Linked DNA regions of Homo sapiens. The protein of the gene in region 3 purifies or fractionates together with the protein of the main gene of each other region. This does not show direct contact. Each region holds a gene or a part of one and is shown on either strand. Other genes may lie near its edges. The genes, in order: CREB3L2, GRB10 and SHANK2.

What was found.
Region 1: the proteins of SHANK2 (region 3) and CREB3L2 purify together in Homo sapiens (co-immunoprecipitation; one large-scale study listed by IntAct). This does not show direct contact.
Region 2: the proteins of SHANK2 (region 3) and GRB10 purify together in Homo sapiens (affinity purification with western blotting, with the first as the bait; one study listed by BioGRID). This does not show direct contact.

Annotation. Positions count from the first base shown.
Region 1 is NC_000007.14:137,999,155-138,003,549, reverse strand, and holds the start of CREB3L2 (cyclic AMP-responsive element-binding protein 3-like protein 2), read left to right. Parts: upstream 1-1,463; 5' UTR 1,464-1,844; coding exon 1,845-1,946; intron 1,947-4,395. UniProt on the Homo sapiens protein: Transcription factor involved in unfolded protein response (UPR).
Region 2 is NC_000007.14:50,667,887-50,671,538, reverse strand, and holds part of GRB10 (growth factor receptor-bound protein 10), read left to right. Parts: intron 1-1,675; coding exon 1,676-1,817; intron 1,818-3,652.
Region 3 is NC_000011.10:70,469,817-70,472,580, forward strand, and holds part of SHANK2 (SH3 and multiple ankyrin repeat domains protein 2), read right to left. Parts: 3' UTR 1-2,764. UniProt on the Homo sapiens protein: Seems to be an adapter protein in the postsynaptic density (PSD) of excitatory synapses that interconnects receptors of the postsynaptic membrane including NMDA-type and metabotropic glutamate receptors, and the actin-based cytoskeleton.

The DNA.
Region 1 (4,395 bases), on a different chromosome or scaffold from region 3:
CACATCTGTGGTCCAAGCTACACAGGAGGCTGAGGCAGGAGAACTGTTTGAGCCCAGGAGGTGGAGGCTGCAGTGAACTGAGATCGTGCCACTGCACTCTAGCCTGGGTAACTGAGTGAGACTGTCTCAAAAAAAAAAAAAAAAAAAAAAAAATCTCAAAAGACCCCAGAAGATAGGACCAGACAAATGCAATAGTTTATATGATAAACTGCTGCTTTAAAGACAACATAGAGTTCAAAGACATTTGTCTCCACCCGCCAAAAAATACTTGCCAAGGAAACAACACAATAGCTAATACCTGAATGTGCCATTGTAAGAAACTTCTAGAGCTAACTGGCAAAGACCTGCTTTTATATTTAAGATAGGTAAACTATATTTTTGGAATTAAAAAGGAGGAAGAAGAATCACAGTGTTCGGGGGAATTCCTTTAGAACAGGCCATCTCTTCCCTATTCTAGGAGGCAGGCCTGGTGCTCTGGCCCTGGCTCACCTTTCTGGCCTTTCCCACCCCTCCCTGCCAAGCACCTCTGCTGCAGCCACACTGGCCTCCCCAGCAATCACGTGAATACCAGCTTCCCCCGAAATCTCATTTCCTTTAGGAAGAACTTCCCTGATCAGCACGTAAAATAGCATCGATCTTGACGCATCCTGTTTTCCTGCTTTTATTTTTCTTTATAGCAATTTCCACTTTCTGAATTTAAATGTTTATTTCTTTGTTTATTGCCTGACTCCTCTGAGATAAAAGCTCTATGAATTCAAGGACTGGGCTCACTTCTGTAGGACCTGGAAAAGCATGCCATTGACTCTTATCAAGCAGATGAAAGAAAAACATACAATAAGTGAAGTCCATAAAAAATAGAAGAACCCAACAGAAAATGGGCGAAAAAGGTGAAGAACAATGACAATTTCCTAGAGCTGCACTAATATAAATGTATGTGCATGAGGAATATTTGTATTTTTGTATAATATGTAATCCATTAAAAAAATTCCGAGAGATTCAAATGAACTAAAGTACTCGAAAATGTTTAAGCCCCCCGCGCAACAACTCTCGCGCCCCCTGTCGGCGCGCTGGTAAATTTCTGAGGATTCTCAGCAAGAGGACTGAACTCACCCTCCCTCTTTTACAAAATGTATTCTTGTCGCTATTTCATTGGCTGTACCTTTCAGACGCCCCTTTCACATTAGTCAAGCCTCCAGTCCATCACTTCCGGACCCAAGCCCTCTATTGGTCAGCTGTAGGCGACAGCAGACAGCGGGCCGCGCTCAAGCAGGAGGAGTTCCTCGGTGACGTCACAGACACTCCCCGGCTACATTCCAAGGCGTGGGCGGAGACTTCCCGCGGCCTCTGCCTTTGGGGGCGGGACAAAGCCGAGAATGAGACTTCTGATTGGGTCTGCTAGGCAAGGCGGATATCCAATTGGTCAAGCCTTGGAGGGAGGTGGGGCCGCAGCTGGGTCCTGGAGCAGAGCCGAGGAGCCCTGGGGTCCCTCAAAGTTTGTGTCTGGAGCCGTAGCGGCAAGTGGGCTTGCGGCTAAGGGATTTTCCTGGGATGAGAGCGGGTCTTCTGCCTTCATTTTGGATGCACATCCCGCTTTAGCCCCGGCAGCCTTTGGTCCGGCTCGTGTCCCTGGGGATTCTCGGATCTCCGAGGACACCGGACGGGAGCGCTTGGCCATCCTCTCTCCGGCAGAGGAGCAGACGTTTGCTTTCCAAGTGCAAAACTACAGACACGCGCGCGCACACACGCAAGCACACGCGGAGAGAGAGGAACCTTGCCGGTCCGAGGCAGCTCTGCGCGTCCCCTCCTGCGCTTAGCATCCTCGGCCCAGCGCGGCCCGCACCGCCATGGAGGTGCTGGAGAGCGGGGAGCAGGGCGTGCTGCAGTGGGACCGCAAGCTGAGCGAGCTGTCAGAGCCCGGGGACGGCGAGGCCCTCATGTACCACACGGTGAGGACCCGGCGGGCGGGGCAGGAGGGCTTTCAAAGCGGGCAAGTGTTGTCACGCGAGGAGCAGCTGGAGTCCTGGGACCCGGGAAGGCAGGGTTTGGGGCAGGGCATGGTCAGAATCAAGAGGTCCTGGGCGAGGTGTACTTTAATGTCTGAGCAGATGAAGGCGGGCAGCTGGCCCCTTTACATTTCTCATGAGAGTAATGCCACTTTGTATTCCTTTAACAATTCATGCTTTTTTCCCTGAGGCTTTTTCCATCTGTAATATCATTTGCTGTTGTTAACAGTACTGTAATGCGGGAGAGGGAGTGTGTGTTTTGAGAATAACATGCCTCCGCCTAGTTTGCTATTGATTTTTTTTTGAGGTTTTCAAAAACTGGACAAGATTAAGTAGCATTTCCTTTTCATCTGTCTCGTATTCTCTCTCCCTCTCTCCCTCCCTTCCTCTTCTTTCATATTTATATTTTAAAAAGTACACGTGTGTGTGTGTGTGTGTGTGTGTGTGTGTGTGTGTGTGTGTGTTGAAAGGGCTCCTCTACGTTAGGGAGAAAGGCGGCTTTATTTGCTTTCTTAAACTGTACGACCAAGAAGTCTCCTTCCTCCCTCTTCGGAGGAAAAACCAGCAGAGGAGTATGGAAAATCTGAGACAGTTGCATATTTAAGAAAGGCTCTGGGGAAGGTGGGACAGCTCACCAGTTGCTTGTTCAGTCTTATACTAATGCCTCAGAGATCTCTTGGGGGATTAAGCTGTCCCAGAGCACGCACATTTCTTTTAAAGTTTTTAATGTCAAGTTTTTGGTATTAAGTTTGCAAAATGAAATTTTGTTTTCAATAGCCAGCACTGATCATAGGACTTTATGCAAGATCTCTTTGTTTGATTCTTATCCATGCAGACGTTTGTAATGGGGGTGGGGCTGGGGTGAGGGGGGACACTAATGAGAAAACCACTGGAGGCTTGGCTGCTTCCCCTTCACGCTTTTTTAATGGGGTCAGTACCAAGATATTTGAAACTTTCGCAAAATGGCCTGCAGGCTCCACCTCTTTGGCCTTTGACTCTGGCTGACGTTATTTTGAGACAAGGAATGAGGGCCTCCCTGCTGATTCCCACCGAAGTATTTGTGGTGGCTGAGAGTGGCTTGTTTAAAAAAAATGCAGAGTGCAGGGCTGAGAGGGAGTGGTAGTTCATGCTGGGGCAAAAGCCAGATGTTCAGTGTGATCTTCTGGGCTTTGCTTGCTGAGCTTGTCATGGGGACACTATGTGGGCAGCACGGAGGTTGGGGTACCAGATGTGCTTCCTGTCCTCAGTAAAGAACTTGGAGTATGTTGTTCCTCAAATATCTTTTGATGAATGGGTGCTCCAGGAGTTTCTACTGACAGGCTACATTTTATCCATATGCAGAGGGGCAGCCCTTCTCTTTTGTTCTTGAAGTATTCTTTCGCTGTGACAGTGTCTCATCCAGCAGCTGCAATGCCACAGCTAGGGGGTTGTCTTTCAGCTGGTGGGATGAATTACGCACAGGCATCTACCTTGCTGTTCTTTGGCCCTGTAGCTTGCATTTGTGAGTTCACAGGGAAAGGTGCGAGATGCTACCCGTGACTGTGGCATTCACTCTGGGAAGAACTGCTTGGACTGGCTCTAACTAACACCTTATGCACACTTTCAGGGAGTAGAGGCCTTACATTTGCTTTGATATTAACAGCCCAGTTTTTCTGTCATTGTGATAAAGCAGGAATGTGTGATTATTTTTCTTTTATTTCTATTTTTAAAAAATGCTTATTATGTCCTCCACTTAGGTACATGTCTGTTGTGAACAGCTCATTCCTGTAAAATGCTGCTCATCATTGCTGCAAGTCAGTGCAACAAACTGTGCATATGAATTACTGTTGAAAGAGGTATTGGTTTAGCAGCACAAATGATTGGGTTATATTTCTCTCAAACTAAGGGACGTTTGGGAGAGGTGGGGAGATAATTTTCCCATCTGTTTCCTGAACTCTGTTAGATATCCAGGGGCAGAGCTGTTTGTTACTCTAGCTGAATCTTTATGTAGAAAAAGGATGGCCTGATTATTCATTCAGTCAGAGAGATATTTGTTCTTTCGATTAATATTTGTGGAATATATAAAGCACTTGGAAACATGAGTGAACAGAAGCAGACAAAATCCCTGACTTCTAGAAGCTTATATTCGTGTGTGTGTGTGTGTGTGTGTGTGTGTGTGTGTGTGTGTAGGGGAACATAAACAATAAACATTATAAAGAAGTGATTATGTTGGATGAAATAAGTGTTATGGAAAACGTATAAGTAGAACAAGGTGAGGGGGATAGAGAATACAAGGTGGAAGAAGAGCAAACTATGGGATTGAACTGAGTGATCAGAGCAAGCTTCCCATAGAAAATGGATCTGAACAAAAATTGGAAGGAGGTAAGAGTGTTAGCTCAGCAGGATGAAGAAC
Region 2 (3,652 bases), on a different chromosome or scaffold from region 3:
GCTTTCCTGTATTTCGCAGCACTGATTCCCTTCATGCCATGTGAGTTCTCGTAATTTTAAATCCATGCATCATTTGCTGGTCTACGTGGGATAGTTAGCTGGATCTTCCTTTAAAAAATAGGGAAAGTTGGTAAAAGAGAAAAAGTAATACAGTCACAAAATGTGTTTCTGTAGTGGCAAATCTCCTGGGAAAGCTAACGGATTGTTGATTTTGTGAAATCGTAAAAATTGTCAAAAAAATTACTTGAGGACACAGCCTATGATGGGGGTTTCTGAGGTATGTTTAAACATGGGGAGGGATTGGAAATGCCGAGTGAAGATAATGTGAGGTTTGCTCCCCTCTCCTTGAAGGTAGGAGGCTGCAGACAGGGCCGCGTGGCCTCAGGAAGGGTGGAGGAGGCTGTGTGTCCAGGAGTGCCCTGGAGGTGTGGGCCAGAAGTTACTCTACAGAGGGGAGGTGCCAGACACTTGACATTCGCTTTGACTTTGAACTTGATTTCTCTGCTGTTCACAGTTGCTTCTGATTCGTCATACTGTGTGTGTGTTGCATAGTTGTGTGACAAGTGGGTTGTGCATTTTTCGGAGGAGGGAACAGATGCCCCTGGAGATGTGCCAGGAAAGTAGAGGTGGTGTGTGGATTCAGCGTGTGTTTCCAAGGTGTGTTTCTAATGTGGACACAGGCTTTGCGAGGACAGATACATGAAGCTATAATTTCCAGTTAATTCAGTGTCAACAACCTTTTTATATAAGTAACCATCCATTGCATAATTCAGATGAGAACACACAGCCTTTTCTTGTATTTTCATTTGATTAGATTAATGCTCATTTCAAGGACATTGAAAAACACTTGGTTCTCATGAAAATGCTCATATTCAGAAAACTTTCACACATCAGGTATTCACTGATCAAACGGATGAGGTATTTGGAGCTGATGCCATGTCAGGCACTGAATGCTGCCTGAGATGAGCACGCACCCAGGACAACAAAACTTCGGCACCCCGCCCCCCGCCCCCGATGCCTAATGAAGAAGAGAATTGATACCCAATACCCTTTGGGTCTGAGAATGACAACTTGTAATTTTTTTAAAGTTTTCGTTTTAGTAAAATACATGTAACATAAAATTTACCATATTAACTGTTTTTTTCAGGGTACAGTTCGGTAGTATTAATGCACACTCACAATGGTTGTACAATCTCCAGAACTTTCTCATCTTATGAAACTGAAACTCTGTCCCCAATAAACAGCGATTCCCCATTGCCCTCCCCTTAGTCCCCTGGCAGCCACCCTTCTATTTTCTATGGGTTTGAATACACTACCTACCTCACTGGGTGAAATCACACAGTGTCTCTGGTTTTGTGACTGGTGTGTTTGACTCTGCATAATGTCTTCAGGGTTCATCCGTGTCGTAGCCTGTGTCAGAATGTGCTTCCTTTTTCATGGCTGAGTAGTGTTCCATGGTATGGATATGCCACATATTGTTCATCCATTCATCCATCTGCAGACCCTTGGGATGCCTCTACTTTTTGGCTTTTGTGAAGGATGCCACTGTGAACGTGGGCATGCCAGTGACTCCTAGAAGCCCTGTGTCCTGCTTTCTGGGTGTATCACCACAGTGGTAAGGCTGGGTCATGTGGGGAATGGCAGCTTTTAACAGGCACTTATCCCTGCCTTCCAGGCGCCTTCAGGAGGAAGACCAGCAGTTTAGAACCTCATCTCTGCCGGCCATCCCCAATCCTTTTCCTGAACTCTGTGGCCCTGGGAGCCCCCCTGTGCTCACGCCGGGTTCTTTACCTCCGAGCCAGGCCGCCGCAAAGCAGGTGAGTGTGCCCCTGGCTGGAGCCCAGGCTGAGGGATATGCCAGATTATTGGGATCTGCACAGATGTGCCAGATTATTACTTTGGGAAGAAGGGCGGGAAGTCCTGGGATCTTCTCTCTCAGTTCTTTTCTTGTTGTCACAGTACTTGTTGTCCTATGAGGCCGATACAGTTTGGATGTTGTCCCCTCCAAATCCCATGTGGAATTGTAATCCCCAATTTTGGAGGCAGGGCCTGGTGGGAGGTGATTGGATCTTAGGGGTAGATTCCTCATGGCTTGGTGCTGTCCTCACAATAGTAAGTTCTCACGAGATCTGGTTGTTTAAAAGTGCGTGTCATCTCCTCCCCTTGCTCCCACTCCTGCTGTGCGAGACGCCAGTTCCTGCTTTGCCTTCTGGCATGATTGTAAGCTCCTAAGTCCTCATCAGAAGCCGAGCACATGCCCGCACCATGATTCTTGTACAGGCTGCAGAACCATGAACCAATTAAACCTCTTTTCATTATTGATCAAAACTCTGTTTTATCTTTATATTTTAGAAAAAGTCTCATAAAAAATGGCAAATAATAACAATGATTTGATGTTTAAAGATGAATCTTAGTTCTTTGAAAAAGTTTCACCACTGGCTCAATAATAGGTGTGAAAATGCTGGGCTCACCCGGGCACCTGGATGTCAGTACACAGGAGTTGAAGAGTTTCTGTCTTGTAGTCCTGACTTTGAATATGATCTGCCGAAAGCAGAAGAGTTTCCATTGGACCCGCAGGGCAATAACCTCCTTTTTGAACTTGTAGTTTCTACTTAAAGTAGATCCATGAAGTAGATAGGACACAACCATTGTCCCCATATGAGGAAACTGAGGCACAGAGCATTTCAGTAATGTGTCCAAGGTCAAACAGCCAACAAGTCAGCTTAGCAGAGAAACTGGCAGAGAAAGGGGTTGAAAGTTCCTCCCCACCGGTTGGCAGGGCTGTGAGCCAGGATGGGCTGCAGCCTCTGGAGGAAGACCCCTAGGGGTGGAGGTGATCATTAGAACAACTGCGCCATCTGATGTTTATGGAGTGAGGGATTTCTGTGTGCCAGGCCTTGTCGTAAGTGGTGGATATGTTTATTTTTTGTTTATTTATATGTTCATTTACTCCTCATGCCATCCCGTATGAATTAAGTACGCATGTTCCCTCTGTTCCACAGTTGAGGGAAGGGAGGCCCCTGTAAGCAGCTGAGCTGAGTGTGGCTGAGACCTGATGGTGCGGCTGAGTGTGACCCGGCCTCAGAATCGGAGCCTGTGATTGCAGCCACTGTGCTGATTGGCTTCCCGGGACTTTGACTTTCCTTCTGCTAAATGCATATTTAGAAGTCATTTTGCCCTTCTACTTGAATCATCTCTTCTCCCTACTTGCTCTCACTTCCCTACCTTTGCTGTTCTCAAGCAAGACAGGCCAGCCATCCCTTTCTCTGCAAATCTGCCTGTCCTGTGCCATGCAAGGTCTGTCCTCTTGAGAGAGAGACCTTTTTCCAATACCCGCTGGCTCCCAAGTGTGGGTCCCGTTCTGACCTCAGGCCCCCGGAGCAGGCTGCATTATGGCACTATCAAAACTTAGAAGGTGAGGTAAGTGTCCCTCATCTGGGAGCCAGCACTGGCTGGGCTTGTGCACTTTGTCACATGTCTAAAGTGCATCTGGGATGTCTACCTCGCTGGTGACCTTCTGCTTCAAATAAGGATCCAGACAAGCTGTCTGTGGGTTTTGTCACTGAGGTTGTTTACAGAGCTACCCATTCTAAAATAAGACCATGAAAATATTATCTGGCTCTCTCAGCCTTTGGCAAGAAAATTGGCCTCC
Region 3 (2,764 bases):
GTCACATTGAGTAATTTTTATATTATGTGAATTAACTTAAAATGTGCGCAGACACCCTGGAAAAGGTATCTTGGCAGGTATACATAATTTACATTTTGAGAGATTTGGGTTTTGTATACACAATATTACAGAAACTAGGCATGTAAATGCAGTTTATTTAAATTACAGTATGTAACAAAAGTTGATCTTAAAACCTGGAATAATATCAACATGATCTTTAGATGAGCAGTTTAACATTTGTTCCACCATTAAAGAGGGGCATGGAATAGGGCCTCGTCCTAACATGTCCCAAAGGGGGAGAACAGTGGGTGGTGATTTGAATGAGGAACTATTGCTTTCAGTACCAAAATAAGCAGATAGAGATAGAGACCGATTCATCTTGGCAACATGTGTTTATTTGTTGGTCAGTGCAGGTTCTGATAGGTCTATTACTTCTCTATAATAAGACAGTGTAAAAATAAACTATGTTATCAGCTCTTTAGTCTTGCAGCCAGCTTGCTTGTGGTTAGTGGCATGTGGCTTGGAGTATCTTTAAGAAAGGGAATAACATCTGGCCCTCACCAACTGGCTGCCAAAGTTCAACAAACCGAAGTCACGAGTTTCGACTGGTTATCGTCTGCCAGCGGTTTCCTTGACTCTCCTTTGAGCTAGTGTTTTGCCTGGCACTGAGCACAGAGGTAATACCAACTGTAGGCCCAGGGAAAGTGCCATGCCAAAGGAATGGACTCACGGAATTTTGCGGTATCATCAAATGGAAGACAAATTAATGGCCAAACCACCATTTTTACATTTTCTAAAATATGGGGCAGCCTCAGCAGGCCACCTGTAGTATCCTGTCTTGAAATTTATCTAGAGTAATGCTCATTCATCTCATGATGGAAAAACTGAAAGCACACGGAAGTAAAGCGCCTTAATATTCAATTGACTTCAAGTTGGATTGGATCATTTCAAATACAAAGATTGACCTGCAAAAGGTTTTGGAACAGAAGGTCCAAAAACTTGGTTCCAACATCAGGGGTGTGTGACTGGAAAAGCGCGTGTGTGTGGTGTGTGTTTTGTTTTTGTTTTTGGAGAAACTGCTGCATTATGAATTGTAACCACTTTGAAGAAATTGTCCTTCAATGACGAAGTTCTAGCAAAGATAGAAAATATAACACAGCTCTGCTGGTTCAGATGCATCCAAATAAGGTTGATTTAAAAAGGTCATACTTTTATAATTATTCCACAGAAATAGTATTATTAAATCACAAAAGTTTTTTTTTCTTTAACTTTCTAGCACTGAAGTGGCACAAAGGCTGCCTAGTAGACCAGCCACTTTTTTTTCTTAAAATATTGTGCTTATAAACTATCTGTACAACTATTTAAACTTGCAGTAAAGAAAGATTTTAAATTGCTAAATTTTATGTGTTCATTCTAGAGCTGTTCCAGACCTAATCAAGAAAAAAAGGAAAAAAAAAAAACAAAACCATGTTTTATAATTAGAGATGGGCTGAGCTAGTTCTGAAATAATAATAAAACCAAAAACCTGACATTCGAGTATCCTCCAAATGGGGGAGAATGTGCTGGAAGCCTGACTGTGTGTTTTGCGGCCCATGTGCATCTGGTGACCTCTTTTGGAAATTCGAGGTATTGTTATGGGGTGGAGGGACTCCGGGGAAAGAAAGGGGCGGGGCTCAAGAAAGCCTTGCCAGAGAGGCTGACCTGGCAGCCCAGGAGACCTCCCTGCTTTCCTCTCCTCACGCCTCTGCTTTCACTCTGATCCTGCCGCCCACCTTCTGTTCTCAACCCTGGGTTCTGTCTATACTCCATACCCACTGGGTCCTCAAAGAAGCTGTTGTACTGTTAAGACAAGCTGGTGGGATTCCTAGACACCCAGAGCGATAGGGGAAAAGCCTCTAAGTACCATCTTCCCTGGCCTCCGAGAGCAAAAGGACTGTCTCAGCAGAGATGCTCACCCTTGGCTGGGCACAGAACTGAGGATGCTGTGCCCGCCCAGCTCCCAGAGGAGACGCTGTCTCACTGGCAGCCGCATGTGCCCGCCATGAGCCATGCGTCTTCTTGTCCTTCATGTCAAAGTGGATGCTCACCTGCTCTGATCTTTGCAGAGCTCAAGACATCTTCAATTAAAAAGAATTCTGAGAGGCAGAGAAGCCCTTATTCTCCATCCTGGATGGGTGCTCATGGCAGACAACTGCTCTTGTCCTGGAGACCTGGAGCTTGGGCAGTTGCACGCTGGCTGGCTCCCTTGGCCAGGTCTCCCCTCCATTGTGGAATCGTGACTTTGTGCTTTGACTAACTCCATGTGACATCTGCTTGGCCACCTTGGAATTATGCTAACAGATTTGCAGAAATAAAGAAAGCTAAGCAAAGCTGGGCACGATCCCATCCAAACTCCCAGCACTGCCAGGAACCTCATGGCCAAAGAGCCATGGATGCAAACCACAGGAGGAGATGGGGAAAAGAATCTGTGTAGGAAAAAGTTTCTCTGCCTTTCAGGCCCATGATGGGGCACTGGACAAATGCATCTGGGAGCATCTCACTGCAAGCCAAGTGCAGGAGAAAGAGGGGCAGGTGAGCATCAGGTGTCCTCTGAGAGGCCACAGGACTGAGGAAAGGCCTCATGCCGGGGCCTGGGGTGGTGAGAGCTGCCCGGAAAGCAGAGGACGGAGGTCTCAGGAGGTATCTAGAGTGCACTGGTGTCTGCCTACAAGAGCTAGGATCCCGTGCAAAATTGACGGGGAGCCTCTCGGACCCGGCAAAGCGA